3 separate regions of the Homo sapiens genome follow, and regions 2 and 3 are each linked to region 1. The links come from fine-mapping of genetic effects on gene expression. A gene starts in region 1. Each other region holds a variant in brackets. All regions are shown on one strand. Distances are between the middles of the regions.

Region 1 (10,570 bases):
TTTTCTCTATATAGTTATGCTACCAATTACATATACGGTTGGGTTTATTTTTTCATTTATTTTTGATTTTCAGGTTTGTCTTTTTCTATTTTAATTTTTGAATATGTAAAACATTTATATGGTTCAAAAGTGAAAAAAATATAAAAAGGTATACTCAGAGAGGACCCTGTTTCATTCCTTTCCACCTCATCCTCCATCCCACTTAGGTAGGAATTGATGTTAGCTTTTTATTTATCCTTCCAGTGTTTCTTTTTGAAAAAAAAATTTTTAATATTCTGTTCCTTTTATATTTAACAACGTATCTGGAAAATTATGTCAAGTCAGTACACGCGAAATTTTCCCATTATTTTTAAACAGCTGCATAGTACTCCATAGTGCTACACTGTGTGGATGAACTGGATTAAATTAGCCACTTATAGATGTATGTGTATATAAGTACCTTGTTAGACAATCACAGGGTTCTCTCTGGTATCTGGTCATACTCGTTTTCTAGAGTGGCTGCAACAGATTACCACAAATTGCGTGGCTTAAAACAACAGAAATTTATTTTCTCACGGTTCTGGAATCCTGAAGTCTGAAATCAAGGTGTTGGGCTTCCTCTGGAAGACTCCAAGGGAGAATCCTTTCTTGCCTCTTCCAGTTTCTCTTGGCTATAAGGGTCTTTTCGTTTGTGGCTCCATAACCTCAATCTCTACCTTGGTCTTCATGTGCCCTTCTCCTTTGTTTCTATGTTTTCACTTCTTTTGTTTCTTACAAGCACATTTGTCATTGGATTTAGGGTCTACCCAGATAACTGAGGATCTTATTATATTTGCAAAGATCCTTCTGCCAAATAAAGTCTCAGTCACAGTTTTCAGGGATTAGGACATAGACATATCTTTTTGGGGGGAAGGGTGGGCACTGTTCAACCCACTACATTGGCTATTATAAATAGTGGTGAAAGGAATAAACTTCCATGCATGGTTTTATATTTATTTCTCCATAGAGTTATCCTACCAATTACATATATTGTTAGTTTTATTTTTTCCATTTATTTTTTATTTTCAGGCTTGTCTTTTTCTGTTTCAATTTTTGAATATGGAAAACATTTACATGGTTCAAAAATGAAAAAAATATAAAAAGATATACTCAGAGAGGACACTGAGTCCTTTCCACCTCATCCTCTATCCCACTTAGGTAGGCATTAATGTTAAGGTTTTTTTTTAAATCCTTCCAGTGTTATATATTAGAATATCTGCAGGGTAGATTCCTAGAAGTCAAAATTCTGGCTGGGTGTGGTGGTTCACACCTGTAATCCCAGCATTCTGGGAGGCTGAGGCCCGTGGATCACTTGAGGTCAGGCGTTCAAGAGCAGCCTGGCCAACATGGTGAAACTCTGTCTCTACTAAAAATACAAAAATTAGCCAGGCATGGTGGCACATGCCTGTAATTCCAGCTACTCAGGAGGCTGAGGCAGGAGAATCGCTTGAACCTGATAGGCAGAAGTTGCAGTGAGCTGAAATCACACCACTGCACTCCAGCCTGGGGGACAGAGCAAGACTGTCAAAAAAAAAAAAAAACAACAAAACATGGGAGGCCAAAGCCCATGGATCACCTGAGGTCAGATGTTCAAGACCAGCCTGGCCAACATGACAAAACCCCCTCTCCACTAAAAATACAAAAAAATTAGCCAGTCGTGGTTGCGCACGCCTGTAATCCCGGCTAATCGGGAGGCTGAGGCAGGAGAATCGTTTGGACCTGGCGAGATAGCTCCACTGCACTCCAGCCTGGGTGACAGAGCCAGACTTCATCTCAAAAAAAAAAAAAAAAAAAAGAAAAAGAAAAAAGAAAAAAAGAAATTGAAATTCTGGGTCAAAAGGCAAATATTTATTTTTGCCAAATTTCCTTCCATAAGAGTTGTAGCATCTAACATTTCTACCAGCTATGTTTTCTATAGCTCTGCCACCAGACTAGAGTGTGTTATCACACCTTGTCTCTGTAGAGGTTTTTTGTTTGCTTGTTTTTTCTAATTCAAATGATATTTCAGAGTAGTTTTAATTTGCATTGCAAGTTTTAAACTTTTGATCTCATTATTCTTATTTGCTGATTACTGTAGGACATTTATTCAACAACACTTAATGTCTGCATAACACTCGGCACTCTATAACTCCAGGGATAAAGAATTCAGTGCAAAGCAAGTGAAGCCCTCAAAGAGTTCACAGCCCAGCAGGAACGAGTTTAGAAAGAACAACAGAAAATAAGAAGAGCCATATGGAATATGCAAGTGGGTGAAAAAGTACCAACATAATAATACTATATGTTTCTTCCTTTTTAAGAGAAGAATTGGAGTTCTACATTTTCATTACTGGGTAAAGGCTAGATATGATGGGTGCGATGAATTTATATGCACAGATGCCTGTTTCTGGCATTACCAAGCTTGATAGTATCACATGTTCACTGTACACTGTCATTTATTCCCACATGTATCTAATCGCTCAGCCTCCTTAACTGGATTGGAAGCATTGGAGGTCAGGAGGATGCACCTTATACATCTTTTATCTCCAGGGTTTAGAATCATGCCTTACACATTGCAGGTGCTCAATAAATGTTTGATGATGATGGCAGCTTGCTTTGCAATTAAAAAAATGGAGTTTCCTAAGACAAGTATATTCTATTTTTTCAATCAGTGTAAGGAAAAGTATCTTCTCCTAAAGGAATTGGACAGTGAACATTGTGGTTTACTATGTGTAATCAGGTACAAGCTCAATTGCTGTAACGAAGACTCTCAAAATGCCTTGACTTAAGATAAGACATTATTTTGCTCTCTTGTTACACTTTTAGAAGTTTGTGGTCCTGATCTGTTATCATCTGGGGACTCAGGCTGGTAGGGCCGCTCTGCCATCATCTTGAGCATGGGGCTTTCATCTCCGGGTCTGAGAGTGATCCATGTTATTGGGTTTATCAGTAGTCTGTTCTTTTTTATTGCTGAGTAATATTCCTTTGTATGAATGTGTCTATACAAAGGAATATTACACAAATCTAAAAATAGAGAGACGCTCTAAAACTGTGAGTTTATTTATTTATTTTTTCCTTTTCGCCTGCCTGGTTGAAATATGTAGGACTACTTTAGCTTTTTATTGTATTTCATTTAATAAACTTTTATTGAGTGACCCTATGGGCCAAATACTGTGCTGAGGGATGGGGATACAAAGGCGTGTAAATCCTTGTCTCTTCCCTCAAGTTACAGTTCAGCTAGAGGAGAAAAAGACAGTTGTGTTGTCCCAATTTGGATGGAAACCACGTGATTCTACCTTAAGTACTTGCTGAAAAAGCTGAAAGGATGTCAAAACTTGCAGGATTCGGATGCCACTATACAATCCTACAGTGTAAGAAATCTCCTGACCATCTTTCAGCTCAAAGTCTTGCCCCAGGGAATAAGCGCCTGGCTTTAAAAAGTATACAGGCCTGAGTCAGATCCCTCAGGTTCTATTTCTGGTTCTGCTACTGGATCGCCATGTGGCTTGCACAACAGAGAACGCACCCTTCCTACAAAGAGGCAAGATCCCAAGGAGCCCTCTGAGCGAGCGACCTCCATACCCCAAGTGAGGTTGGGTTCCAGGAACCTAGGGGCCGGCTGAACTCCTCACCGGGGCACGCTCTTCCCTAGTGCCAAAGCAACTCATTTTAGTGTGAAATTAGAGCTGCGATTTCGGCACGGTCAGAGGGGCTTCGACTCGCTCCCTTGTGTGAATCCAGAAGCTAAACCTAAAAATAGTTTGCATTTGAAAAGCCTTGACACTTTTCTTACTGAGATTTTTGGGCGTGTGTGGTTCACGTTGCACTAGAGGAAAATGGGGTGGGCGCGCAGGAGGGAGAGTGAAACCACGGGCGATCTAGGCTGCCGGGGCAGGGGACGGACAGAGGCCGCCCTGCGCTTCTGCGACCCTGGAAAAGAGGTCGCAGCGCGTCGCCTGCTGGAGAACTTCATTTCCCAGGAGCACTTGCGGCCCGCGGCAGGGCGGGGCGACGTGCCCAATGCCGGCCCACTGACTCCCATCGTGCCGAAGACCGCCAGCCTGATTGGAGGACTGTCTCGCGGTGCATCTCGGGACTTGTAGTACAACGTGTGCGTGAGAGAAGCTCCTTTGTGATTCGAGGCGCCTTCTCGGCCCTCTGAGCGCGTCCCCGCTAGGTTTTGGCGCGGACGGGCTAGTGTCCCGCCAGGAGAGTTCGGCCTGTGTGCGCGTGCGTAGCGCCCAAGGGGCCGGCCGGCACCTCCCGCGGGGCGGGGCCTTCGGTTCCCCGTCGACACCGCCTTCCTGCCCCGCCCCTCGCCGTGACCGGCCCGCCCCTCCTTCCTGGAGACACAGCTGAGGCGGCGGCGGCGGCGGCGGCGGCGGCAGCAGCGGGGCTGGGGGCGGCGAGTGGCCCGCGCGACACGCGCCGGCCTCGACCCTATGCTTTGATTCGCGTGGCGCAGGCGCCTACTGCCCCGCCGGCGGGGCCCGGGCTTCCTGCCGCGGGATGTTCTCCCGAAGGAGCCACGGGGATGTGAAGAAGTCCACCCAGAAGGTGCTGGACCCGAAGAAGGACGTGCTGACCCGCCTGAAGCACCTGCGGGCGCTGCTGGGTGAGGCGCGCGCCGGGCGCGGGGGTCGGGGCGCCGGGTTAGGGGCACCTGCCGGGAGGGCGCTCCTCTGTGCAGGGGTCGGTGGCTGGGAGGCTGGGGAGGGGGATGGGTGGGCGTCCGACCCCCTTCCCTGGATCTGGGCTTGGACCCCCGGGGCTTTGTTTCCAGAAAGCCGCAGCCTGGCCCTCGGGCACTGCTCCCGTCGCCCTCGAGTTAAACTTAGCCCAGATTCTCGCTGGGCGCCTGCGCTCCCGGAGAACCTGGAGGCCGGGCACAGAGGTACCTGTCCCCTGTCCTCCCAGCAAGTGAACTGGATCCCAAGTGGTCATCACGTGCACACATTGAACTGTCACCTCCCCCTTTCATTTTTAAAATTTTATTTTTGAGTCTGAGACCCTAAGTAGACCGAGACCCCAAGTGAACCCAGCACAGACCTAATTGGGCTCTCATCTCTGTCATCCCCCTTTTAAATTTTATTTTTACTTTTGAGTGTGAGACCCCCATATAGACCGAGATTCCAGGCGATCCCAGCACAGATTTGTCATCTGTCTTCCCATGCTGCTTTTTAAATTTAATTTTTATTTTGGGTCTGGCTGCTTCAGTTTCTTTGTGTCCTTGGTGTGAAGGGGCCTTCTCTTCCTGCTTGGAGAGAGGGGTGGTTTTCTTGGGTTCAGGGAGGCTGCTTCTCCTTTATTACCGGCATGACAGTGATGCTGTCTGCCACCTTCTGGTTTATGGCCTGCCAGGTGGAGGTTCTGAGGAGCTCAGGTGGGCTTGGAGTTGACCTGTGATGAAGCTCGCCCCTGTGGGTGTGAGGTGTCCACAAGGCTTCCTGTCACCTGCTGCATGTGATCTGTAGCTGGTTCGCCTAGGCTATGTTTTGTTTTCTGTATTTTTTTACATCCTAAGTCTTAACTTTTCTTTGGGATGAAAACACCTTTGCTATCTATAGACACACTTACCTGTGTATTTGGTGGCGAAGGAAAGAACACCTTATGTTTCTTCCAGGTGTCTTTTAGTCCCAAAATTCACAAAAATCGCCTAGTGCTAATGTGTCTGTCACTTGAAAGAATATTGCATAAAATGATTTAACGTGTGAAGATTTTAAATAAAGATCTTGTTCATGAGATCAGAAGTTGCTGATTATTTCTATTTATATTCTACCTCTGAGGGGGAGAAGAACCCAAGCCAAACCAAACCACACCTGATTTTGCCAAGTGAAGTTATTCACAATCTCACATACCTTGAGGTTACACTGACTTGTTCAGTTTGAAATGAAATGTAAATTAGTTGCTGTTACAGGGATTCGTTTTCAAGACTTTTGAGAGTGAAGTGTGGAGAGTGAAGTGTGGCGTTCTTGGTAAACTGAATTTTCTACTTCCTGTAGATACCATGCACGCACAGGTTGCACAATACACAGGTTGCATTGTGTGGAGTTCCTGGTAGTGACTGATTAACACCTACTGCAGGGACATTTTTGATAAAGGAGAGTTGAGCTGTGTTTTAAAGCGTTTGATACTTTGAGCCTTTTTCTGTGCTTTAGCGTTTAAATTTTTGTTCTGTCCAGGTCTGCAAGATTAAGTTGGCTACATTTTATAAAGGCAGAATCAAGTAAACCTAGATCAGGTTATTTCTTAGCACACAGTACATTGTTCCCATTCTGAGAAAGTTGATTCTTTTCAAGTTTGTAAAATTGTAGTTTCACTCTAAGGTGTAGGTCTTATTTTAGGGAACTTTCTTTTATCATTTCACTGAACTCATCATGACCTCAGTTTTGTAACATGGAGAGGTTCTTTTATATTTCCTTAGGTGTATGTTTTTTGTTGATATACTTACTAGTGGAGTGGCCCAGTTTGCTTTGTTTATTACTGTGATCTTTGTAGGGACTAGATTTTTGTAAAATGTGTCTGAGGAATTCTAGTCATAATATTTAATGTAAACTTTCACTTGCTCCTGTGATTTATTAAAGACTTAAAAAGTAGTACGTAATGCACTAGTTCCTACCTAATCACATATTCTATTTCATTGCTACTCGAAAAAAAGTCTACTTAGAAAACAAAGGCCTCTTGAACTGAAAGTTAGGAATTAAGCCAAGATTAAGGAAACTATTTGAAGGAAATGAATAGTAATTACTATTGTATTTTTATGTGTGTATTTATATAACACTTTTGCTTTTCATATATTTTATCTTCAAGTGATAATAAAGTTTTTTTTTAAGTATGCAAAGATTATGCCACTTACTTGGGTATTTGCAGCCTGTCCCTGCCGCCTGCAGCTTCATGACTTGAGCTAGTTACGTAGCCTGTCTCTGAACCTCGGTTTCTTTGCTCTGTAAAATGGGTATGGTAATGTTTGCTTTTTAAAGGATTATTGTGAGTATGATGAATAAATGACTTCAGCTTGAAGTAGGCCTTTAACAGTTTCTTTCCCATTACATATCTCCCACCATTAATAGGATAGGACCAGTATTTTGATAGGTAATTTTTCTCCGTCTTTCTTATTTTTGATAATAGTGATGAATTTGTTCTCTTTTCCTAAAAAGTAGTCTGTATTTAAAACAACTGGGTGAGAAACATAAAATTAGCTGTGGAAGTAGAGTATTTCTTAGTATCATGGTAATAACTCCAATTTGGATGTAGATACTTTCACCTGGCTATAGACTGGTCTGGTATGATTAACTTTATTTTACAGAGGGGTAAGCTGAGGCACAGGCAGGCTTGACACGTATCAAGCCATGTAGCAGACGGTTTACTTATGTTAGAGGAAGAACGAAGAGCTGTTAGGTCCTGTGACTTCCAGTTCTTCCTACACTGTTGACAAAACAAAAACCAAAAAACCCTGTGTATTACCATATTGCTCCAGCAAAGATTCCATGTCTTTTTTTTAACAGGATCTTTGCTCTGTTGTCCACGTTGGAGTACAGTAGTTTGACCTTGCCTCAACTGCTGCAGCCTTGGCCTCCCTGGCTCGAGTAATCTCCCACCTCAGCCCCTGGAGTAGCTGGGGCTACAGGCATGTACCACCACACTAGGCTCATTTTTGTATTTTTTTTTTTTGAGATGGAGTCTCACTCTGTTACCCACGCTGGAGTGCAGTGGTGCCGTCTTGGCTCACTGCAACCTCCGCCTCCTGGGCTCAAGCAATTCTCATGCCTCAGCCTCCTGAGTGGCTGGGATTACAGGTGTGTACCACCATGCCTGGCTAATTTTTGTATTTTTAGTAGAGACAGGGGTTCACCGTGTTGGCCAGGCTGGTCTTGAACTCCTGGCTTCAGGTGATCTGCCCGACTCGGCCTCCCAAAGAGCTGGGATTACAGGTGTGAGCCACCATGTCCGGCCAGATTTTTGTATTTTTTGTAGAAGACGGGGTTTTGCCATGTTGCCCAGGCTGGTCTTGAGCTCACAGACTCAAACGATCCTCCCACTTCAGCCTCCCAAAGTGCTGGGCTTACAGGCATAAGCCACCATGCCTGGCCAGATTCTAATTAAAAGTTGAGTGCTTACTATGAGTCCTAAATTAGGATATAGAACTGGCATTGATGTAGTGAGAAGAATAGATACAAAATAATAGTAAATTTATGGTGTGTTATGTAATTAGATGGTCAGGTATATGGTAGAATCCATTATAGGATTTCAGAGAACAAAAGAGATAATTAAGAATGTCATAAAAATAGGGGCATCTTTAAGGAGATTTGTAGTAGTCTGTTCTCACTCTGCTAATAAAGACATACCTGAGACTGGGTAATTTATAAAGGAAGGAGGTTTAATTGACTCACAGTTCCACATGCCTCGGGAGGCCTCACAATCATGGCAGAAGGTGAATGAGAAGCAAAGTCATGTCTTACATGGTGGCAGGCAAGAGAGCTTGTGCAGGGGAAATCCCATTTATAAAACCATCAGATCTTGTGAGATTCATTCACTACCATGAGAACAGTATGGGGGAAGCCACCCTCATGATTCAATTATCTCCACCCGGCCCTTGACATATGGGGATTATTACAATTCCAGGTGAGATTTGGATGGGGACACAGCCAAATCATATCAACGTTTTACTTACGCTGGGTTCCAAAGAATGGTTAGACTAGTTCTGTCCAATAGAGATATAATGTAAGCCACATGTGCAATTTTAATCTTTTTTAGTGACCACATGTTAAAAAGTAAAAAGAATCAGGTGAAATTAATTTTAATAGTGCATTTTATTTAACTCCATGTATTTAATATATATTATATCTGCAGGTAATCAATATAAAATGCTATCAGTATTTTTTACATCTTTTTTTCATATGAAGTTTTTGAAATTCAGTGTATATTGTATACTTACAGCACATATCAGTTCACACTAGCTGTTTTTCAAGTGCTCATTAGCCATATGTCACTAGTGGCTGCACACTGGACATAGCAAGGTTAGAATCTGGGAAAGTAGAGGGGAAGGTCAATTACAACCAGGGGAAGATGGAAGAGCTGGTGGCAGAAGTAACATGACAGTGATGGTAAGTAACATGGCGAGGTGTGGTGTTGGGCACTGAGGACCCTTGCCCAGAGGATGTCCCCAGTGTCCTGCATAGGCCAGGGGTAGGGTAGGTTCCTGGGGAAGGAGTGGAACAGTAGCCTGACAAGCAGAAGCTGAGGCTGGCTGGGGGATCAGAAGCCAGACTCAGGTCAAATCAAGTGACCTGGGTTTGGACCAGAGAGTAGAGAACCGTCTCTCACAAATGCTGTATATACAAACAGAGCAAAACATAGCATTGTCGTATAGTTCCTTTTGTGCATATGTTGCTCATGTTGCTCTAGGTAGGAACAAATTGACTTACAGTTGTAACTGTTGTCTTTATTTTATCATTAGCATTTTTGATGTTTTGTTCCTCTCATTTTTAAGTACAAACATTTGTTGAGACCATATCCCATAATTTAGCTTACCATTTCCTGGATTGTGAAATTTTGTTCTTTTCTCTCCTTCCTTCTTTCCTTTTTTTTCTTCCTTCCCTTTTCCTGATAGAAGTAATACTGCAGTAAACATCTTGAGAAGCAGCTTTTTCGATATTTCCTTAGATTTTATTGAAGTAAGATTGCTGGGTTTGAACATTCGATGACTTGTTTCACAGTGCTTTTCTAAGTGTTGCTCCATTGGCCCTGCTAGCAGCAAGGATTGAGGCTGCCATTTTCACTGTAGTCTGACTACCAATAAACACCTTTTTATAATTTGATAATTGGTGGTAGGTATTTGGGATAATAGGAGTGTCATCTACAGAGTGAGAACAATTGGGAAGGGGGAAGGGATCCTGGGCAAGGACGGGGAAGATGAGTTTGGTGTTCTACATGTTGAGTTTAAGAAAAGGCAAGATCCAAGTGGCGTGTCTGGGGGGTTGTGGGACATGGGATCTGGACCTTAATGAAATGATAGAATGCTATCATATATTTAGTTTTATTGGTTATTATCATCATGACATCATTGAATCTTTTTGCAACTGTGACAAAGGAAGTGTTCCTATCCCCAGCTGAGGAAACTGAAGCTCAGTGAGAATAGCTACTTGTCTGCCAGCAAGTGGGAAAGCTGAGACTTATCTGATTATGAAGGCCATGTTATGCTTCTGCTAGTTATCTGATTCAAAAGGAAATTTACATATCAGAAAATGTATTTATCTAGTAGAATGAATGATAACATAGAAACAAAATCACAACAGTTTTTGCATGCCTCCCAGAAATGTTGCTGTGATATTGGCCTCTCTCTTTCTGGTCCATTTTTCTGCATTTTTCTAGGGAGACTTGGGATTATCATATTTGATTTGAGCATGGGCAGACGATAAACAATCTCCTCCGGTGTTTTAGTGTTCATTGCCTTCCCTGTAACCTTGGCAGGCCTAGCAGGTGATAAATATTTGCGTGGACATTAATGCCACGTGGACATTCTACAACTAGAACAAAGCTGGGAGGTGTAATTTCAAACTCTTCAGGCAGTCTTAGT
Region 2 (10,570 bases), 200 kb before region 1:
TTACCACCAGCAGTTGGTGCCTGGGACTGCCAAGTCAGCTGCTCCTGTTTATGCCTTAGCATTTCACACCAGTCCATCTCACCCAGAAGGGCACATCAGAAGCTGCTGTCTGAGGCTCTCCCCCCTCTAATTCCAATGTCCTCTGGACATGAAGGTGGATTCCAGAACATGAACTGTGTAAGAGCCCCCATGTGATTCTGAGGCACCTTCACCCACTTCCACCCATTAAGAAGGATCACTCTGGGAGGAAAATGAATGGCTCTACCTCAATGTTGACTCTTGGTTTGTGTAGCAGATGCTGTCAGTGCTCCATCCATATCCCACTGGCCCAATCAAAAGTCACCTGCAGCTTGAGGAAACTATTCCTGATGACTTCCTTCAACCAGGCAAATCCTTTCCTCTATAGCTTATTCTGTGGTGTCCTCAGAAGAATGTAAGTGCACCAGTGTATTGGGAGAGGCACATATAACTGATTATAAGAAAGAACTTTCTAAGCCCCAGAAGTTTCCAATGGTGAGTATACTAGAACACTAGGATCTCAACACCATTAACAACAATTTAGGGGGCTTCGATGGACATTTGCTCACTGAGTGGTGAGTAAATTACAACAGACGTCCAGATCTTTCTCATCTCCCAGGGAGATGAACATTTCGAATCCCTTTCTGGAAAAGGATTTTTCCAAAGCTTTTTCATGTCCCTTAGAGTCCTTTATTCATTCTCAGTAGATGTGTCATGTCTTCCTTGATGAAGAAAATTAGGACCAAGGTCCGAGAGCCCTGACTTCTCACCTCTCCACCTCAGTATCGCAGGTACTTCCTCGGCCATGCACTTCTTGTTTACTTTCTGACTCAGAGGAATTGCAAATCATAGATGATTGGCTGGAAGAAAAGCATCCAACTCAAACTAGCTCAGTCAAAAAACAAGGGTGGGATATTGAAAAAAAAGGACAAGTAGTGTAGCCAGGTCATACAGAAACTGGCAAGTATTAAGAAACAACCGTCTTACCCACAAAGTTTCAAAATTCATTCAAAAATATTATTGACATAAAAGTTTAAAAAGCATAAAAGATCACAGAAATATAACACAACCTAAATTTTATACAGATTTATTCATTTAAATTCATCCACATATTTATTCATAAATAAATAAATGTTAACAGTGGTTATTTCTATGTTAGTTCAGCTCTACTTAGATGTTAAACAAAGATTAAATACATGTAAATTTTAAATTATAAGTGCCATAAAGAAAGGGAAGAATTTCCAGAGAGCTTATAATGGGGTAGTATGTGTGAGAGAGGGGAACCTAACCCATGATGGAAGGTGGGGGAAGATTTCCTTGTGGATTTAGTTCTTGAACCTAGACCTAAGGATGAGTGGAGTTATTTATAAGCTAGTGCATGGTTCTTTATATTTTTAATTTTAGATGCCTATCAGTTGTGTTATTAGCAAATATTTTTTCCTGTTCTGTGGGTTGGCTCTTCACTTTCTTGATAGCCTTTGACACAAAAATTTTTAAATTTTGATGAAGTCAAATTTGTTTTTTCTTTCATTGCACGTGTTTTTGGTATCACATATAAGAAACCACTATCTAAGGCAAAGTAATAAAATTTACATCTATGATTTATTTGAACAGTTTTGTAGGTTTAGCACTTACATTTTTATCTCTGATCCATTTCTGTATATGAGAAAAGGTAGGGGCCCAGCTTCATTCTTTTACATGTGGCTATCCAATTGTCCCAGAAAAATTTGTTGAAGACTATTCTTTCCCCCATTGACTTGTCATGGTAATCTTGCTGGAAAGCAATTGATCATAGATGTACGGCTTTATTTCTGGGCTCTCAATTCTATTTCATTGATCTACATGTCTATCCTATACCAGTACCACATTATCTTGATTACTGTAGGTTTGTAGTAAGTTTTAAAATCAGGATGTATGAGTCCTACAATGTTGTTCTTTTTCATGATTATTTTGGCTGTTCTGGGTCCCTTGCCATTTCATATGAATTTTAGAATGAGCTCATCCATTTCTGTAAAAGTGGCATTTGAAATTTTGGTAGAGATTGCGTTTAATCAATAGATCAAGGGGGAGTATTGTCATCTGAACAATTGTTCATCTTACCAATATTAAATCTTCCAGTCTATGAACATGGGATGTCTTACTATTTATTTAGGTCTTCTTTAACTTTTTTCAAACAATGTTTTACGGTTTTCAGTGAAAAAGTCTTGCATTTCTTCGGTTAAATTTATTCCTAAATATTTTATTCATGTCAGTGCTATTTTAAATTAAATTGTCTTAATTTCATTTTTGGATTATTCATTGTTAATGTATAGAAATATAACTGATTTTTGTATTTTTATCATATATTCTGCAACCTTGCTGAACTCATTTATTAGCTATTAATTTTGTGTGTGTGGATTCTTCAGGGTTTTCTATATATAAGATTATGTCATGTTCAACTATAGTTTTACTTCTTCCTTTCCAATATGGAAGACTTTTATGTATTTTTGTTGCCTAATTGCCCTGGCTAGACCCTCCAGTACAACGTTGAATAGAAGTAGTGAACGTGGACATCCTTGTCTTATTCTTGATCTTAGAGACTAAGCTTTCAGTCTTGCATGGCACATATTTTTCCATTCTCCCTATCTTTTACTTCCAACCTTTTTGTGTTTTTGAAGATAAAGCATGTCTCTTGTAGACAATACAATATACTTGGGTTAAGTTTGTTTTTTAATACATTCTATCCATCTCTAACTTTTGATTGGGGAGATTAATCTATTTACATTTAATCCTCACTGCTATGATAGGATTTACATCTGCCAATTTGCTATTTGTTTTCCATTTGTTTTATATGGTTTTGTTTTTTGTTGTTGTTCAATTCCTCTATAACTCCCTTCCTTTGTGTTAAATAGATATTTTCTAGTGTACCATTTTAATTCCCTTGTTTCTTTTACTATATACTTCTGAGTTATTTTCTTATTGCTTACGCTGTGAATTACCACTAACATCTTAATTTACATCAATCTAATTTGGATTAATAGCAACTTAATTTCAATAGTATACAAAAACTTTGTTCCTATGTAGCTCCATCTTACCCCCTTTAGGCTGTTATTGTCATAAATATATCTTTACACATGTGTGTCCATCAACTTAAGTGTATAATTATTGCATTATGAAGTTGTCTTTTAAATAAGGTAGAAAAAAAGTTACAAACAAAAATACAGTACATACTCTTTTAGAGTTACCTATATAATTCCCTTTGCTAGTGCTCTTTATTTTCTTCATATGAATTTTAGCTGTTGCCTAGAGACCTTTTGTTGCAGTCTTAAGGACTCCTGCTAGTATTTCACGTAAGACAGGTGTGCTAGCAACGAACTCTCTGTTTTGTTTATCTTAGAATGTCTTAATTTCTCCTTCATTTTTGAAAGATAATGTGCCAGATATAGAATTCTTAGTTGACATTTTTTTTCTGTGAGCACTTTGATTATATCTTCCCACAGCCTTCTGCCCTCCATGACTTTTTAATGAGAAATCAGCTGATAATATTATTGAGGATTCTTTGTACTTGATGAGTTGCTTCTGTCTTGCTAATTTCAAGAGCTTCTCTTTGCTTTTGGCTTCTGACAGTTTGATTCTTATGTATCCAGATGTCATATCTTTGAGTTTATCTTGCTTGGAGTTTATTAGGCTCTTTGGATATGTAGATTAAAGTTCTTCATCAAATTTCATAAGTTTTCACCATTATTTTTTCAATTATCAACATTTCTCCCTTTTCTCTCTCCACTCCTTCTGGGGCTTCTATTATGTGTATATTTGTATGCTTGGTGGTATCCCAAAGGTCTCTAAGGCTCTGTTCATTTTTCTTCATTCTTTTTTATTTCTGCTTCTCAGACTAGAAAATCTCAACCTATCCTGAGATTCACTGATTCCTTCTTTAGCCTGCTCAAATATGCCATTAAGTCTGTCTTGTAAATTTATTATTTCAATCATGGTACATTTTAACTCAAGAATTTCTATTTGGTTTCTTTTGTGATTTCTATATTTTTGTTGATACTTTCTGTTTGTTGAGATATCATCCCCATATTTTGGCTCTTTGAACATATTTAAAATAGCTGATTTAGATATTTGTCTTAAGTCCCATAAACCAAGTGTTTGTGCTGCCTCTGGGGCAGTTTCTACTGATGTTTTTTCCTATGTATAGGTCATACTTCTTGTCTCTTTGTGTGACTCATGTTTGTTGTCAAAAACTAGACATTTCAAATATATAATATAGAAACTGAAAATCAAATTCTCCTTCCTCCTCAGGGATGTTTGCTGATTATTGTAGTTGTTGTTTGTTTGTTTAATAACTTTTCTGAATATGTGAAGTCTGTATCTTAGTCATGAGTGGCCACTGAAGTCTCCACACAGTTAGCTTAGTGGTAGGTTAATGATTCGCAGAGATTGCCTTAAATATCTGGAGCTAATAAATCTCCAAGTTTTTGCCTGGGGCCTCTGTATGTGTATTGATACATGCCTTCATCTCTCAGCAACTCTACCTTAGTCTTCACTTCCTATTTGTGTAGAACCTCAAGGACAGCCAGAGGTGAGCACTTAGAGCCTTCTCAGGTCTTTCTTGAGAATGCTCAGACCTGCACCCAGCCCTGGGCATGCATGTGGCCTTTTAGATTCCCAGTAACATGTTGAAACTTTTCAAAGCCCCTATGGACATCTCATGCCTCAGGTTTGTCTTTTAGATTTTTTGATTATTCCATTGTTTGCCCTAACTGTTATCCATCACCCCAGTCAGCTGTGATGTTAAAACATTTGACAAATGCCATCCTCCTCCTTTTTCCTTTCAAAGGTTTTAATCACTGGATAAGTTCAAATGAAGTCAAATAAAGAAGCCTTCTGAATGAGGGACTTCCAGAGAACTACCAGTAAAATAAGACACTTATTTGGAAACAAAGTCCATTTTGCTCCCTCTGGTACCAGGAATACAGACTGATTTTTCAAGGCTACCACTAAGCTGAGAAGTGGAGGATGGGACTAGAGTAAGTTAAAATGCCACAATCTGTTCTTATCAAGATTCAGTCATATTTTTAAATCCTCACAGGGATGCTACAAGCTTTTGGTTAGTTTCCAAGTTCTGAAAAAGTCAATTCTGCCAAATTTTGCCAATTTTTTCATTGCTTTCATAGAAGCCTGAACTTTCAGAGATCCTTACCTAGCCATTTTCTCTGATGTCACCCTTGCCTCTACATCTGTGCATGTCCCTGTTGTATGTTACTGCTAGCAGAGCTAAATGACCTTACAGTCCTTATGCTAGACCTTCCCAAACTAGACTTCCTGGATCTCTTAGTTCAAATTTCTGTGAGAGAAAATCTGATTGAGTCATTCCAGCCAATAGAATGATTCATTTTATGCCAGTCATCTGTATCTGTGATGGCAGACCATGTGGTATAAATGTGGCCAATTGGCACCTTGTGTTCATCAGGAGTTGTGTTGTAAGGCAATGACAAGGAAAAGAGAGAGAAGCAGGCTTGGATTTCTAGTGCAGACTTGTCACTGTTAATTTCTCCCTCTGTGCCAGTGACCCCATTTTCTCCGTCTTCCCTGGAAACTTGTTTCCAGGAATACCACCCTCAATGATAGGCCAATTTTCCTTTTCCATCTTTGTGTCTTTTCTCAGGCCTCACGAATGTGGTTTCTCCCTTCTTTTATTTTGCCTGGGTCCTCCCCTGCAGAGCTGCTGAGAATGAAGAGGAGTACTTCTCCCACCACTAAGTGCTGCTCTTGAAACAAACATGCAAAGCCCTCCTTATTTTTCAAGAATGTTTTCTCTTTCCAGGGGAAAAGACAGAGAGTAATAGAAATTTAAAAAGTAGCTCACCATTTTTCTTATCTGCCTGCATGGTTCTGCCCCAGTATTGTCCTGACCCTTCAGTGCTGGTTACACCTTCACTTCCAGCTTTGCATAGGACTCTTTTACTTTGGTCTTTGATTAATGAGGTTTTCCAACTTTAAGACTGGTTTCTCATTCCTCTCAATTTTGGACTATGTCCTAGTTTTTCTAGGCTTTCTGTTCTGAGGCTAACATCTGCTGCTATTTCCATGGTCTAAGACTACTCATTGACTCATCA[A/G]ATCTTTCACAAACAAATCATTTAGTTATCAGAAGGATTATATAAGAGTCAAAGTGAATGGTTTATCTTGATATCCACTGTTGGTTTGTGTAGCAGATGATGTTAATGCTCGGCCCACATCCTACTGTCCCACCCCAAATGTCACCTATTCCTTGAATGAACTCTTCTTGTTTAGGCTGATTATTTTCTACCTCAAACACCTGAGTCTCTGTCTTCCAGGGGACTTTCTCTGGTCTTTGGACATTCTTCACCTACAAGGTGGTCAGGCTGGAAGTGCCGGAAAGTTTATGCTCTGAGAAGCATCCCTCAACCAATAATAGATGGAGGTTGACGAATGAGTGCCACAGCATCCTCATGTGGGACAACTCTAAAGTGTGTTTTTGAGATGGCTTCCCAGAGGTCTCAGCGGGATTGGACTCCAGTTGCTCACAGAATTAGTCTTCCCAGAGCACCCTGTACTGATTCTTTCCCTTTCCTCACTTCCTTGCTTCCACACAGTACTTCCTGGAATCACTTCCCAAATAAATTACTGACTTCCAGGTTCTCATCTCAGGGTTCTCTTTTGGAGGAAACCAAAACAAGACACTTGGATAAATGCCTTCACTCAAAGTTGCTAAGACAATGATCACTTGGTAAGTGATGCCAGGATGAGAAAGGAAAACTATAATTACCCCTTTGCCAGATGCAACTCTATTTGACAGTGTTGTACACTTTCTAGCATGGTAATGAGTTGGGAAGACATCCTGAAGTTTAGAGAAAACTCAGGGGACCAAGATTGAGTTCTAATGGCCTTGGCCAGGCACGATAGCTCACACTTGTAATCCCAGCAATTTGGGAGACCTAGGCAGGTGGATCACTTGAGGTTAGGAGTTCGAGACTGGCCTCGCCAACGTGGTAAAACCCTGTCTCTACTAAAAATATAAAAATTAGGCAGGTGTGGTGGCACATACCTGTAGTCTCAGCTACTCGGGAGGCTGAGGCAGGAGAATCACTTAAACCTAGGAGGCAGAGGCTGTAGTGAGCTGAGATAGCACCACTGTACTCCAGCCTGGATGACAGAGTGAGACTCCATCTAAAAAAAAAAGGAGGGGAGGCCTCACAAAGCCCAAAGATCTATCCAGAGGAGGACGACATGCCATCAGAGCTTGCGTGATGTTTTCATAAGGCAGAAACTGCAGGTTTACAGATCTCATATCAAGAACGTTGCCTCACAAACAGAAAATCCTTATCTCCTTTTAGGTCAATGTAAGGGGCACTGATGTGGTCTCACCAAGGGCCACATTATTATTGCATTCAAGTCAACAAGCACTTGAGAGTTCTCATGTTTTTTAAGAGCTTGAAATTTGGAAGGGGATGGCAAGAACAACTTGACTAAATATCACTTACTGCCATGGTGAGTTGTAGGGCCAGCCAAGCATGTCCCCCCTTCATCACAGTGGCTCACTAGGTAGGTAAAGATGGGAGAGTCTCATGCAGATACACCCACGTGGCTAATGGGGTTATGACAAACCCCGGGCTGCTGAGAAGTTAAAGGAGCTTTCGAGAAAATTAGGGAGGTCCTCAGACACACTTAAGGTGGAGTTAATTAAAAGTCACTAATGCAGTCATGAGTGTTCAGCTCCACATTATTGTTGTCAAAGGAGAGATTCTGCAAGCACATGTTGGCATATTTGGAGAAACCACGAGTAAGATTGAAAAGATAAAAGACATTGCAATGCTATGACTTGTGTCCAAGAGTAGAAAAATACATAAGAAGAATAAAAGAGAAACTCTTTATGCCAGATATCTTATTTATAACCCAGATTTTGAAGTCTTGACCAGTTATTGTCTCATGTCAGGAAGGAAAAGGCACTTGATTAGAAAGGATAGAGGGTGATCTGTTACATAATTTTACATGTGATTTCCTATAATATAGTAGGCGTCTAAAAGCTATTATCTCCCATTTTCTTGATGACGGAATTGAGGTTCAGGGGGAAGGCATGACAACCGGGGCATAAGGGGGTCCAAGTACTGGTCACCTCTAGTTCTATCCTGTCCTTAACGTGGGCTATTATTCCCCAGACCCTGGAATTACCTAATATAGCAAGGAGACGTGTATCCTGCTCTGGGATGGCTGGCTTTACAAGTGTGCTGGTGGCTATAGAAGCCAGCCCTACTCTCTCTGCTCTCTCCAGCGCTGACTGCTCCACTCAGCTGGGGGCCCAGGTCACCTTCTCAGCACAACCATTTCACCCGGTTCTGTTTATGTGTTCTCACAACACAGCTCATTTTTACTTCATGTCCTTCTCTTATTCCACTTCTTCTCTAAAGGAAAATTTGATTCTTTTCTAAAAGGGGTTTAGAACAAATGGTTTAGATTCATAGATATCCACAGTGGGATTGTGTGTTTCTGTTGCCCACAGCTGCTGGTCAGCGCTCCCTGGGCTGCTGCTTTCCCTTTTCTTCTCCTTCCAGACCTCTCACAGTGTTTCCCAGAGCCACCTGCCAGGGAACCTGGCTCACCCACATCTTTATTCTGGCCCCACTGGAGCATCGAATTGTAACCGAGTACGCTCATTTTTCTAGAGGTGGTTTAATTATTTTTTCCCCTCTCTTTCACTTCACCTTCATCAGACATTCCCTACAGGGCAAGTTCTTCCAACTACATGCTCCAAGACACATCTCTCCTAGAGAGGTGACAGTCGGTTTGCAGACCAAAGCATGCCCCCACGGAACTTTCACCACCAGGGTGTTGTCTTGGAACTTCCATCCTCGGAACCTTCATCCACTTGGAGGGCTTATCGAAAGCATGCCCGCTTGGCCACTTTTACAACTTACTTCTGCCCAGGAAGGCTCCAACTCAGCAGTCTGATAGATCAGACACTGAGCTAGCAGGGGACCTCTGTCCTTGCTCATTTCCTCCCTTGCCTTACAGAAGTGCCCCCTTTCTCAGGAGGCTGAGGTGGGAGGATCAACTGAGCCCAGGAGGTCGAGGTGGCAGTGAGCTATGATCACATCACTGCACTCCAGCCTGGTGACAGAGTGAGACCTTGTCTCAAAAACAAACAAATGAAATAAATAAATAAATAAATAAATCTGCTCACTTTCTGCTCTCAAGGTGCAGCGGTGCATATAAAGGCAGGATGCTTTGTGTCCCTTCCCCCAAGCTAGCTTTGGGATAAATTCACTTTTTTTTTGTATCAGATCTCTCAGCCAGGGTAAGGTCCCATAAGTAGATTACTTTTAAAGGCTGACTGACAGTAACAGAAGTAGCAGCAATGTCCAATCATAAATATATCAAAAATCACAGTGATCAGCGGTGATTCAAAGTACCGGCAAGCTTCCCCACCCACTTCAGTGGCCTGAAAGGGGTCAGAGCTCAGGGGTCCGGAGTCATCACCATAATCCCAAGTCATCAGGGATGGGTTCTTATGTGGCCACTGTGAAACGGGAGTGTTCCCTGATTCCCCTCACAGGACGTGAGACAGGGATGTGGCTCACCGGTTCAAAGCCCTTGTGGGAGAAGAAGCACGCAGATCCACAGGTATAGAGGCCAGGGCAAGCGCTTTGGGCTCTGGCCCTGTGGTAGTGTCTGGTCTTGGTTGCCTGCAACCCCAATGTTTAAATGCTCTTTCAGCTTTGCTGAGGTTTTATTGAGTGGTGGAGGTGGCCCTCAGTGGGATGGATGTGGAGCCGGAAGTGGGGATGTAGTGGGAAGGTGATCCTCCCCTGGACTTGGGCTGCTCAGCCCAGACTCCTCTCCGAGCGACCTCAGCCCAACTCCTCTCGGCCTTCAGATGTTCCTCCTCTTCTCCCTTTCCCTAATGAGTCATTCCGCGGTCCATTTGCTGGTCGGCTGGCTTGCTGGTCTGCTTCTGGGTCCTGGGTTTCAGGGCTTATATGGGTGCAGGACAGGGGGTGCGGCGGGCCCCCAAAAGGCAACTTTTTGGGCGCGAAAACAGAAATGCCTGTCCTCATTTAGGGCCACAGGTCTTCGGGCTGGAGGGTGGAGCCTTTGCCGGGGAACCGCCCTCTTCTACCCAGTATTTTCCTGTCTCCTGTCCACATCAACTGGACGCTCTTTAAGAAGGCAGGAGCTGTGAAATCCATTTAGGAATAATTACCCTAAAAAATGGTTAAACTAAAAAATAAAAAGGCCCTTTAAAGGATTGATAAGCTTCTATTATTTTGGAAAATTCACTAGCCTCGATGAGCTCATTCTTGGACAATAGCAGATAAATGAGACTTGATTGTTCCAACACCTGCACCGATGTTTGTCTTGTCTCTGACAAGGCGTGGCTGGGCATTGTCAATGAAGTGGTCTCCTCATTATCTCGGCTATTGTTCCAGGAATCAAAGCTGTTATCAATGCCCATGCCTATTATGCATAACTCAACCACAATACCAGGAGAAGTGAGAAAATAGGTGATAGAGTGAATAACATCTTCTCAGGACCACATTTCATGCGAACC
Region 3 (10,570 bases), 35 kb after region 1:
TACTGAGGAAAATGTACAAAGGTGTGTTGACAGTGGATAACTACTTTGAGCCCCCAGCATTGTGAGGTTTTACCCTGGCTGATCGGGGCCCTTGGAAGAACTGGCTGTATTGCTAATCAGCCCCAGTGGGAGTTGTCACTGTGCTAAGTTCCCCACACCCCCGCCTATCTATCCGCAGTCTGTGGTTTAGCAAAACTGTCTAGTACAAGAGGGGCAACTCTAGGAACACATGGTAGATCCTACAGTGTCCATACATGAGTGGGGGCAGGTCATCTAGAAGCTTGTGGTTGGGGAGCATGTGCTAGTTCACTTGAGCTGGTTTCTCTTTTCATGCCCAGAGAGTTATGTTGGTGGGGAGGGAGCAGAGATTGGTCCATTTAGGAGCTCCACCAGCAAAGTTGTTTTTCAGAGGTACAAACCCATCCCTCTTCACGGCCTGTGTCAAAAACTGCCTCCTCCATGAACCTCTACTTCCTCATCCCGTAACAGGAAGTCATGTCCCTCCCCAGACCTGCCCCTGCTTACCTCCAGCCTTCTAGCTGGTCCGTTGTTGCTGGCTCCTGTCAGCTCCGACCTCCCTGAATTGGCTCCACGGTCTCCTGAGCAGGGCTGAGTGGTGGGTGGTACTCAAGGTTCAAGTAAGAACTCTCTTAGGTGGAGAATAAACAAACAGGAATACTGTTTTGTTTTGTATTGTCTTATAAGGGAATGAAACTAGTTGTACTTGCCTTCTTTTCTGAGAAGTTTGTTTCTAAATTCTTGTGATTTTATAAAGTGAATTGTCATAAATGGAAACTTTTTCTTTTCAGATAATGTGGATGCAAATGATCTTAAGCAGTTTTTTGAGACCAACTATTCTCAGATATATTTCATCTTCTATGAAAATTTTATAGCACTGGAAAATAGTTTGAAATTAAAAGGTAAGCATTTCAGTAGTTTTTTTTTAAAAAACATTCGGGCATTTTTATAAGTTGTATATATCATGAGCCACAAATTATACATTTTTAAGCTTTCTTTCTTGCCAAGCCTTTAGCAAAGCTGTGAGAGCATGGTGGACAGGGTGGCATCTTTGTTTCTCTTGAGCTTTCACTTATATGGATGTTAATTGAACAACACATGGCTAGCAAAAATAGCAGAAGGAACCCTTAGAAAGCATGATTTTCAAAGGAGTAAGTTACTGAAAAAGAAAGAAAAGTAATACATGCATACTATTAAAAAAATTTAGATTCCATAAAAGGGTCTGAAATGAACACTCAAGTGTCTGTTTTGCCCTGCTTGCAGAGGCAACCACTATTAAAGATTTCCTGCATCTCCTTCCAGATATATTATTAATGTATTATGTTTATATATGTTTGTGACTATATTCTTTGAAAATCAAACCAACAAGGTCACATTATACATTCTGTTCTGTATACATTATACATCCTGTCACCTAAGTGGTAGGATAGTGTAGCCTGGGGAGCCAGACTGGGTTGGGAACCTGGCCCCACCCTTCTAGCTGTTTCTCCTTGGGCAAATTAATCTGTCTCTGAGCTGGCTTCCTCCTGTCAGCGTTAAACAGGTTCACAGGTATCCTAGCATTTTAGGACAGAGTTTGACACATAGTCCATGGTCAGTAAGTAGTAGCTGCTGTCACCATCTTCTTTCATTTTCATGTAGTCTGTGGGCTGAATCTGAATCCCCACAGCTCTATGAAGTAGATGTCATTCATTTATTTAAAAAATAAGCCATATGCATAAATAACTGTGAAAAAAGTTAAAAAGTCAGTTGTTCTGTAAGAGAGATTTAGACAGAATTCTGTGGTTCTTGGGAAGTGGGAGAGATGACTTCCTGCTGAGTATATAGATGAGGCTTTGGGGAAGAGGTGGCCTTGGGAATGGACCTTGAAGGACAGCAGGATTTCAGGTGGAAGAGAGCGGCACTGCTGCTGGAGGGGAGAACATGAGTAAAGGTAGGGCTGTTCTTACGACATGTATGGGAAATGCATTTTTTTTTTCTTGCAGCAAAGGTGTGTGAAAGAGATTTGCAGGAAATTAGATAATGCTTGCAAGGAGCCTTGAATTCTAGGCTAAGGAGTTTGGACTTTGTTCTGGAGGTGGTTAGAGCTCTTGAAAGTGTTTGTTACTATCACAAGTATCTTGTAAAGTAGCGATTGAACCAGAGGCAAGAACACCAATTGGAAGGCTGATGCTGTCATTCATCTGAGGGATGGTGATGCCTGATCCAGGGAGGCAGTAGTTAAGGGAAAAGAAAAGTGTTGTGTCTCAGTGGGTCTACCATCTATGAGACTTGGTTATAAGGGAAAGGGAGAAGTCAAAGATGCTTTCAGGACACTGAGTCTGCTTTGTGAGGTGCCATTAGCGCAGGAACCCTGGAGGGGAGCCAGATTTGGAAGGCAGGAGGGTGAGAGTGGCTTTGGGCAGTCTGTGTTTGAGGTGCATGGGGGATACCTTGGTGTAGGTGTTGGCTGGACAGTACAATATAGGTGACTGGAGCTTGGGAGAAAAGAGGTGAAATCGTGTTATTGCCAAGGGAAAAAGTATATACAGAGAAAGAGAGTGATGGTCAGAACTTTTAGATAATTCCTTATTTTATTGGGTATATGCAAAGGAAAGCGATGGAGTAGTAGGAGGGGTACCAGGAAAGGGTTTTGTCACAGAGGACCAGGGGAGAGAGAATTGAAGGCATGTAGAGTCAGCCTATTGGTGCATGAGGTGCAGCTGGGCTGGGGAGTAAGAGCTCATCAGTGTGGTTGTTAGTGAGTGCGGAGAGAAAGGTTCTAGGTGAGGAGCAGGTCGGAAGCCAAACAGATGGACATGGAGTCACAGGGCGGTGAGCTGTTGAAGGTGACCCATGAGAATATCCTTTCAGAAAGTTTGATGTGAAGACACAGATTGTATCTCACCCTGGTCACGGGAAGGTTATTGAGGAATGCATTGGCCTGTTTGCAGATTGAGGAGTGGGTCAGCTGGAGGGGGAGATAACTAATGGTGCAGGTGTTGGGGGAAGTGAGTTGAGACAGGTCAAGGAAAAAGAAGAGACATGGAGAGGAGCGTACAGGTGACCTTTCTATGTAAGGAGGAGCAGATAAGGGGATAGTGTAGATATGGAGACATTTTGAGGTGGAGAGGAAAAATCAAGGGACCCCTTGTCAGATGCCCTGATTGCTCCTGTAGAACAGGCAGTTGTCAAGCATGGAGTGGAAGGAATTCAGGGTGAGGCACTGTGGTGGTCTTTGATTGTGGCCATTCTTGCAATCTACTGCAAAGAATCATAGTGAAGAACCAATAAAAATAGTGAGATTTTTGAAGTCTTTTGCTTTTAGTATAATCTGTGTTCGATTGGAGTGCAGGGAAGACACTGTACCTTAAAAAAGAATAAAAGAAAATGCCTACAAGGAATAATGAAATAAATAATCTTGTGATAACTTGAGCCTTTGCAGTTATTCAGGCCAAAACTCCGGAGTTATTGGCTCTATCTTCAAAATACATCCAGAATCACCGGCCTGTTCTCATTGCCTACACTGGTAACACTGAAACTCCTGATATCCTCACCTGGATTATAGCATTAGCTGCAGAAATGGTCTCCCACCTCCACACTTGTGCCCTCTCCCATCCCATAGTTTCTTGTCAAAAGAGCAGCTGGAGTCCTCCTTTAAAAATATGAGTCAGGCGCGGTGGCTCACACCTGTAATCCCAGCACTTTGGGAGGCCGAGGAGGGCAGATCACGAGGTCAGGAGATCAAGACCATCCTGGTTAACATGGTGACACCCTGTCTCTACTAAAAATACAAAAAAAAATTAGCCGGGTGTGGTGGCAGGCGCCTGTAGTCCCAGCTACTTGGGAGGCTGAGGCAGGAGAATGGAGTGAACCCAGGAGGCGGAGCTTGCAGTGAGCCGAGATCGCGCCACTGCACTCCAGCCTGGGTGACAGAGTGAGACTCCATCTCAAAAAAAAAAAAAAAAAAAAAAAAAAAAAAAATGGGTCAAATCATGATTCTTGGCTGCTGTAAAGTTTCAAACGGGTTCTCATTCCCTGTTATTACAGTGGTCTCAGGCTCCACCTAATCTGCCTTCTTTTGCCTCACCTACTCTCCAACCTCAGCTTCTCCAACTGTCCCGCTTGTGTGCTCCAGCCTTAAGGGCCTCTGACTGTTTTCTGACTAAGCCAGACATGTTGAGCTACACGGACTTTGCATTGTTCAGTTCCTCTGCCTGGAATACACCTCCCCTAAATTTCCGTATGGCTTGCTTCCAAACCCCCACATTTCCATATGGCTTGCTTCCTAACCTCAAAGGATCTTTTCTCAGATGTTACCTTACCAGAGAGATGTTCTCTGACTTCCCCAGTCAAAATTGCATACCATCTTTTTTGGCTTCTGTGTCTGCATTCCTTCTTGTTTTTCTCACTCATTTATAGAATGCCCCCTCCTGCCAGAATATTAAATTGTTGGGGGCAGGGATTGTTGTCTGTTTTGCTCACTCCTGTATCCTCAGGGCCTAGAATAATCCCTGGCATATAGACATTCTGTAGTATTTATTCAATGAATGAATGAATGAATGATATCTACTTCATTGAGCTGTGGGGATTCAGTTAGATCAGGGGTCCACAGCTTATAGCTGCCTGTTTTATAAATAACGTTTTATT[G/A]GACAAGCCATATCCATTATTTATGTATTGTCTGTGGCTGATTTTGTACTGTAACAGCAGATTTGAGTGTTTGTAAGAGAGGCCTGCAAAGCCTAAAATATTTATTGTCTGACCCTTTACAGAAGAGGTTTGTTGATTCCTATATTAAATGATATGCGCCAAGCACTTAGCACGATGCTTGGTACACAGAGAGGACCGAAAATGGTAACCTCAGCTGCAGGTGTTGTAGGTTTTATTACTGTTGTTATTATCAATAGGACAGTGTGCAGTTGCCCCAAAAGATATACTACTTTTATAGTTATCTGCTCTATGACTTTTTATATTACCAACTTAGAAATTTTTCGTTTGTGCTGTGCATTCTGCCACAATTTGAGCCAATAAGTAACTAGTTGAGAAATGAATAAATTACCCATCATAGTTTGGTAACAAGTTGGAAAACATGGAAGCTGTGTTCAAACAGCTAGCAAGGGGCAGCTCTGCTGGATGTGGATCTGAGCAGTCGGGCTCGGTTGTCTGTTTGCAATCCTAATGTGTTCTCCATACTGCCTCTTGCTATTTTTTGAATAAATGAATGTATGTTGAGGCTTACTAGTTTTAAGCTGCCTTTTAGCATAATTTGTAGTGTCCTGAAGTTTAAATGATGTCATGATAACTAATTATTTTTTAATATTCCAGGGAATAATAAGTCACAAAGGGAGGAGCTGGACTCCATCCTCTTCCTTTTTGAAGTAAGTTTTGATGAGTTTATTTAGCTTTTATAATTCTTGTTGGAAATAAAGTATTTTTGATCTTTAATTTTATTTGAAGACAAATAAAAATGGCTGTTGGTGGACATATATTTTTTTCTTTCCTTCCTTCCTCCCACCCTCCCACTTTTACAAACTGTGCTACAAATAATTTTCTCGTGATTTTCTTTTTTTGCAAGCATGTGTGATAGTTTTTCCTGTATGGGTACCTAGATGTGAAATTATTAGATGGAGGAGTACACACATCTTAAATAGTAGCAGATATTGCTGAATTGCTCTCCAAAAGGTCATATATTCACACTGAGAAACTGCCCTGTAAAAAATAAAAAAATTTAAAAACCCAAAAATGTTATATAAACTGATATGTAAGTCTTATGTAAATTTCCTATACTCTAACATTAGAGATGATTCGTCTCATATATATAAATACATATATATATAAATCTGACATGCAAAAACTTTTTTTGATATATATTTTTCTACTAGTGAGGTTATGATCTTTATGCATCTGTATATCTGTGTGCATTGATCATATCTTCAAAGTTGAAACAATGTTTGGGTGTGGTTTTTGACTTATTAAGCTTAAAGTCTTTCTTGTCCAAATGTATTAGATAAGTGGCCAGATTACGGGTACCTGGAGAACACACTCAGAACTGAATTATAGGTTCCGAAAGTTAATTGTTGGTTTTTTAGAAATTATTTGTGGTTTGAGAGGTGTAGGCTTAGGTTAGTGTGAGAAGATAAACTTTTATAGCTGTAAAGGAAAGGCCTAATGTGAGCAGGTGCAGAGCTGGCTGGAGGGCAAAGCACTGTAGGAAAGATCTCCTACAGTAGGAGAGTTCTCCAGGGCCTTATGGTGAGGGGCTTTCTGAGTTTATGGAAAAAAAACAAGATATGGGAAACTTCCTGCCCAGGACTTGGCTTCATGGCTAGTGCTCAATAGCCCTGGTTCCCCTTTCTCTCCTTTGAGAGCTATACTCCTTTCCCAGAGTACAGATGTTGATTCGCTATTGATACACATATGTTGATACACATATTCTGTAGTGGTTATTATGTTTCCTGTGTTTACCGTCCTTTGAATGAAACCTGTGAAATGAGTTGTTTTTAACAGGAGCTTTAATTAAGTGTGTTACTTAAATATGTATCTACTGACCATCATTTGTTTGTACTATTTTATCAACTTAATTATATTATTTATGTAATGGTTAAAGAATCTATAACATATGTAAGTTAGGAAGCATGGTAATAAAGCACATACTCTTGACACCCTCCCCCTTCACCATTTTAGGAACTAAAAGCTACTTAGGTGCTCTTCCACCATCCTTTTTCACCTCTGTGACAGTAACTCCCCTGCATTTTATCATTCTCTTTCTTTTAAAAAATGGCTTTGCCACACATATTTGTACCCTTAAATAATTTCTTGTGTGGTTTTGTTTTGTTTTGAGTGTAATAGAAATGATCTCCTATGGTACATAATCACCTTCGACATGCTTTTTACCCTCAACATTAATTCTAAGATTTATCCATGTTTTTAAATTTAGTTCATGTTTATTCAGTCCCACTGCTGGATTAAGTAAATATATGTGACTTGTTTAATTCCTACATTTTGTCTACAGGTTTTTTGTTTTCTTGGTAGACAGATTGTCTATGAGTAAGGAGTGGACATACTTGCCAGTTGGTCTGCTTTCCGCCCTGAGTCAGCCTTCCAGTACATTGGTAAATGGAAGTGATAAAGGGTCATCTTGTTTTTGATCTAAAGAGAGTTTTGTTAATGTGAAATATTAAGAGTAATATTCTCTGTAACTTTTTGGTAGATTCTCTATCAAATTAAATAACTTTGTTTCTATTCCTAGTTTGAGATTTATTTAAAAAATCATAGATGGGTTTTGAAGTTTTTAAATTTTTTCTTGAAAAAACTTGATTGAGATGATAATGATTCTTCTTGAGTATTAATATGGTGAATTACAGTTCTAGATTTTTGGATGGACTAATTACTATTACTATTATTATTATTATTATTATTATTATTTGAGTCAGGGTATTGCCCAGGCTGGAGTACAGTGGTGTGAACATAGCTCACTGTAGCCTTGACCTCCTGGGCTCAAGTGATCCTCCTGCCTCAGCCTCCTGAGTAGGTGGGACTACACGTGTGCATCACGATGCCCAGCTAATTTTTTTTCTTTTTAATTTGTTGTAGACATAGGGTCTCCCTATGTTGTCTAGGCTGGTCTCAAACTCCAGGGCTCAAGTGATCTTCCTGCCTTGGCCTCCTGAAGTTGTGGGATTATAGGCATGAGGCACTGCACCCAGCCTGGACTAATATTTTGTTTGCATTTTTGGATCTCTGTTCACAGCTGAGGTTGGCCTCAGTTTTTCTTTCTCATACTCATGTTGTTTTTGACTGGTCCTGTGGTAATGGTTATAAAACCTGTTGTCAAGCATTTCTTCTTTCTCTGTTATATAACATAGTTCTATAAGATTGGAATGAGCTGTCATTGAAATGTTTTTTTTACCTTTCCTATAAAACCACCTGCAACTGGGGTGCTTTTTTTACTTATGTGAAGATTTTAACCACTCATTCAATTTCTTTGATAGTTTTAGACTTGTTTTAGTATTATTCATATTTTCTGGTTTTTTTTTCTTGATTCAAGTTTGGTAAGTTATATATTTTTCTAAGAATTTGAAGAATTCTGAGGATTTGTTCTTATCACCAAAGTTTTAAAATGTATTGGCAAAGAAGCATCTCTTTGGAGAGTCATAATCCCTTCAGTTTTATCTCCATTAGCTTGGTCTTTATTGTCTTCAAGCAGTTTTTATATTACACACCCTAGTAGTAGTGGTGGTGGTGTTGGTAATAGTAGTAGTAGTAGTGTTTGTGCCACATTTTTACTATCTTCTAGTTGCCATTGTAGCAGCTTTAAACTCTGTTTTTGGTGTAATTGTTGTTCCTTTAAATGTCTTTTCTTTCTGGCTTCTTTTTTTTCATTTTTTTAAATTTTATTTTTATTTTTATTTTTATTTTTTATTTTTTTAAAGATGGAGTCTTTCTCTGTCGCCCAGGCTGGAGTTCAGTGGTGCGATCTCAGCTCACTGCAAGCTCCGCCTCCCGGGTTCATGCCATTCTCCTGCCTCAGCCTCCCAGGTAACTGGGACTACAGGTGCCCGCCACCACACCCAGCTAATTTTTTTGTATTTTTAGTAGAGACGGGTTTTCACCGTGTTAGCCAGGATGGTCTTGATCTCTTGACCTTGTGATCCGCCCACCTCAGCCTCCCAAAGTATTGGGATTACAAGGCGTGAGCTACTGCACCCAGCTGCTTCTTTTAAGATCTTTTGTGTCTGTTGTTCTACAGTTTAATTACAAAATATCTAGTTGAAGATTTCTTATCTTGCTTGGTATATGTATGTTTCTCAAGTCTCTGGATTCATATGTTTTATAGTTCTCTAACATTCTTAGCTATTGTCTTCTCAAATATTGATAAGTTTCTGTTCATTCTGGCCATACTTTCTAGGATTCTTACTTAAACTTGTTGATCTATCCTCTCTGTTTCTTAAGCTTGCTTTTATTTTCTCCTCCCGCAATCTGTTTGTGTTGCATTCTGGGAAGTCTCTTCAGTTGTTTCTTCCAGTTCACTAACTCCCTTCGTTTGGAACAAATCTGCTACTTTACCAATCTATTGAGCTGTACATTTCAATGATTTTTTTCATGTTTTTAACAGCTTTTTTGGTTTGGCATTCTTATGTGGCTGGTTGCTTTCGATTGTCTCTTGATCCTCGTTCATTTTTAGACATCTTTTATTTTATTAAACATTTACTGTGTAATATTTCATATTTTGTAGATGATAATCCTAGTAGCTTAAGTGTTTGTCTAATTATGCTGGTTATTTCAGCTGCCTCTCATTCACAGTGGCTTCTTTTTTTGCATATTTTGTGATATTTGATTTTGAGAGTGGTACTGAATGACCACAGATTTCACATTTGTTAATCCTGGTTTCTCCCAGAGGATTTGTCTTTGCTTTTGCCGGGAGTCTGGGAATGCTCTTGATTGAGAGCACTTTAGCTCCATTTGAGGGTTCTGGTTTATGAATGGAAATTCAGGTTCAGTTCCCTAAACTTACCATAGCTGGGAACTGGGGGCTGGAGGGGATAGTCACCTGTAAATCCTAGCGCTGGTGTTGGCATCAGCTCCTTGGCATTCTGCAGTTTTTTCTTTTGCATGTTGCTTACAGATCAGGTTTTGGCTTACTTGTCTTCTGCCTCCTTTCTTCTTCCCTCTTTGCTCCTCCTTCTTCCCCCACCATTTTTTAGTCCCTTGTTAGTTTCTCTGTGTTCTTCAAAGCCCAGCAATGTTTTAAGAATTACATTTGTTGTCATGGATCCATTGGCCTGCAGCAGGAAAGCCCTTCAGAGACTCTAGACCTATCCCTCTCACAGAAGTTTTGATACTTTCTCTTCATGTTCTTAAATTCTAGACTAGGGAGGGTGTTAATACTGATACATTACCATTTACAGAGGATTAGTTGCCTGTATAATAGAACAAATATATATTGTTCAAGGCTTCATAAAACTTTCATTTTGCATGGTAAATATGAGTGAATAATAAACTTGCATTACTTTTGTTTATGCTTATGTTCCCTCTGTCTCTGGCTTTAGAAGGTAGGTTGTAATTTGTATGTTTCATTCTGGGTACTAAGTAACTTCGTTGCTGCTTTGTAGGATAGTGCCCTGTAAAGCTTGTAAAGAGATAGTTTATAAGGGTTTGGAAGTGAATACTTACCACTTTGTAAATAATTAGGAAAGGCTCCCTTGAGAAGAGGTGGAATTAATAAGATGTGTTAAATCACAAAAGCGATACCATGTAGAGATATTCTATAAATAAGAAATGGCTTGGAAGAAAGCATAGAGGTAAGAGATAAGAAGGCATGAAAGAGGAGTATGTAAAGAGAGCTGCTGTCTGCCTTGTAAGTCAGGGATGCACTGAAAGGGAACCTTGGAAAAGGAAACAGTAGTTTTTAGATGTAGAGTATTGGAGACATTACAGTATTCTGATAAAGTAAGTGATGTGCAGTGAAGGCCACCAGCCAGTCCAGGTCATGGTCTCAGGCAGTGAGCAGACCTTTTTGCCTGCCTTCCTCTCTAGTGGGAGCACTTGTACCTTTTGGAAGTTGACTCCAGCT

Alleles and levels. Positions count from the first base shown, and alleles are read on the strand shown. Sizes are in standard deviations (SD) of each study's normalised expression. Not every link is listed here.
For the expression in anterior cingulate cortex of the gene that starts at base 4,340 in region 1, A is the low allele of the variant in region 2 and G is the other (large effect, 1.1 SD a copy in GTEx).

The links.
Region 2: its variant is fine-mapped to the expression of RALGAPA2 in anterior cingulate cortex (GTEx, PIP above 0.99).
Region 3: its variant is fine-mapped to the expression of RALGAPA2 in whole blood (TOPMed, PIP above 0.99).

What each region holds. Positions count from the first base shown.
Region 1 is chr20:20,706,414-20,716,983 of GRCh38, reverse strand. It overlaps RALGAPA2 (Ral GTPase activating protein catalytic subunit alpha 2), which reads left to right and starts at 4,340. Exons shown (of 40, transcript NM_020343.4): 1 at 4,340-4,609. The coding sequence starts at 4,504. RefSeq lists enhancers at 3,880-4,079, 3,904-4,198 and a silencer at 4,190-4,449.
Region 2 is chr20:20,910,896-20,921,465 of GRCh38, reverse strand. No RefSeq gene overlaps it. Among named protein-coding and RNA genes, the nearest start is that of LINC03083, 54 kb to the left of the region's middle. The variant A/G (reference allele first, on the strand shown) is at 6,120.
Region 3 is chr20:20,671,041-20,681,610 of GRCh38, reverse strand. RALGAPA2 (Ral GTPase activating protein catalytic subunit alpha 2) reads left to right here. Exons shown (of 40, transcript NM_020343.4): 2 at 810-920; 3 at 5,323-5,375. Among named protein-coding and RNA genes, the nearest start is that of RALGAPA2, 36 kb to the left of the region's middle. The variant G/A (reference allele first, on the strand shown) is at 4,648.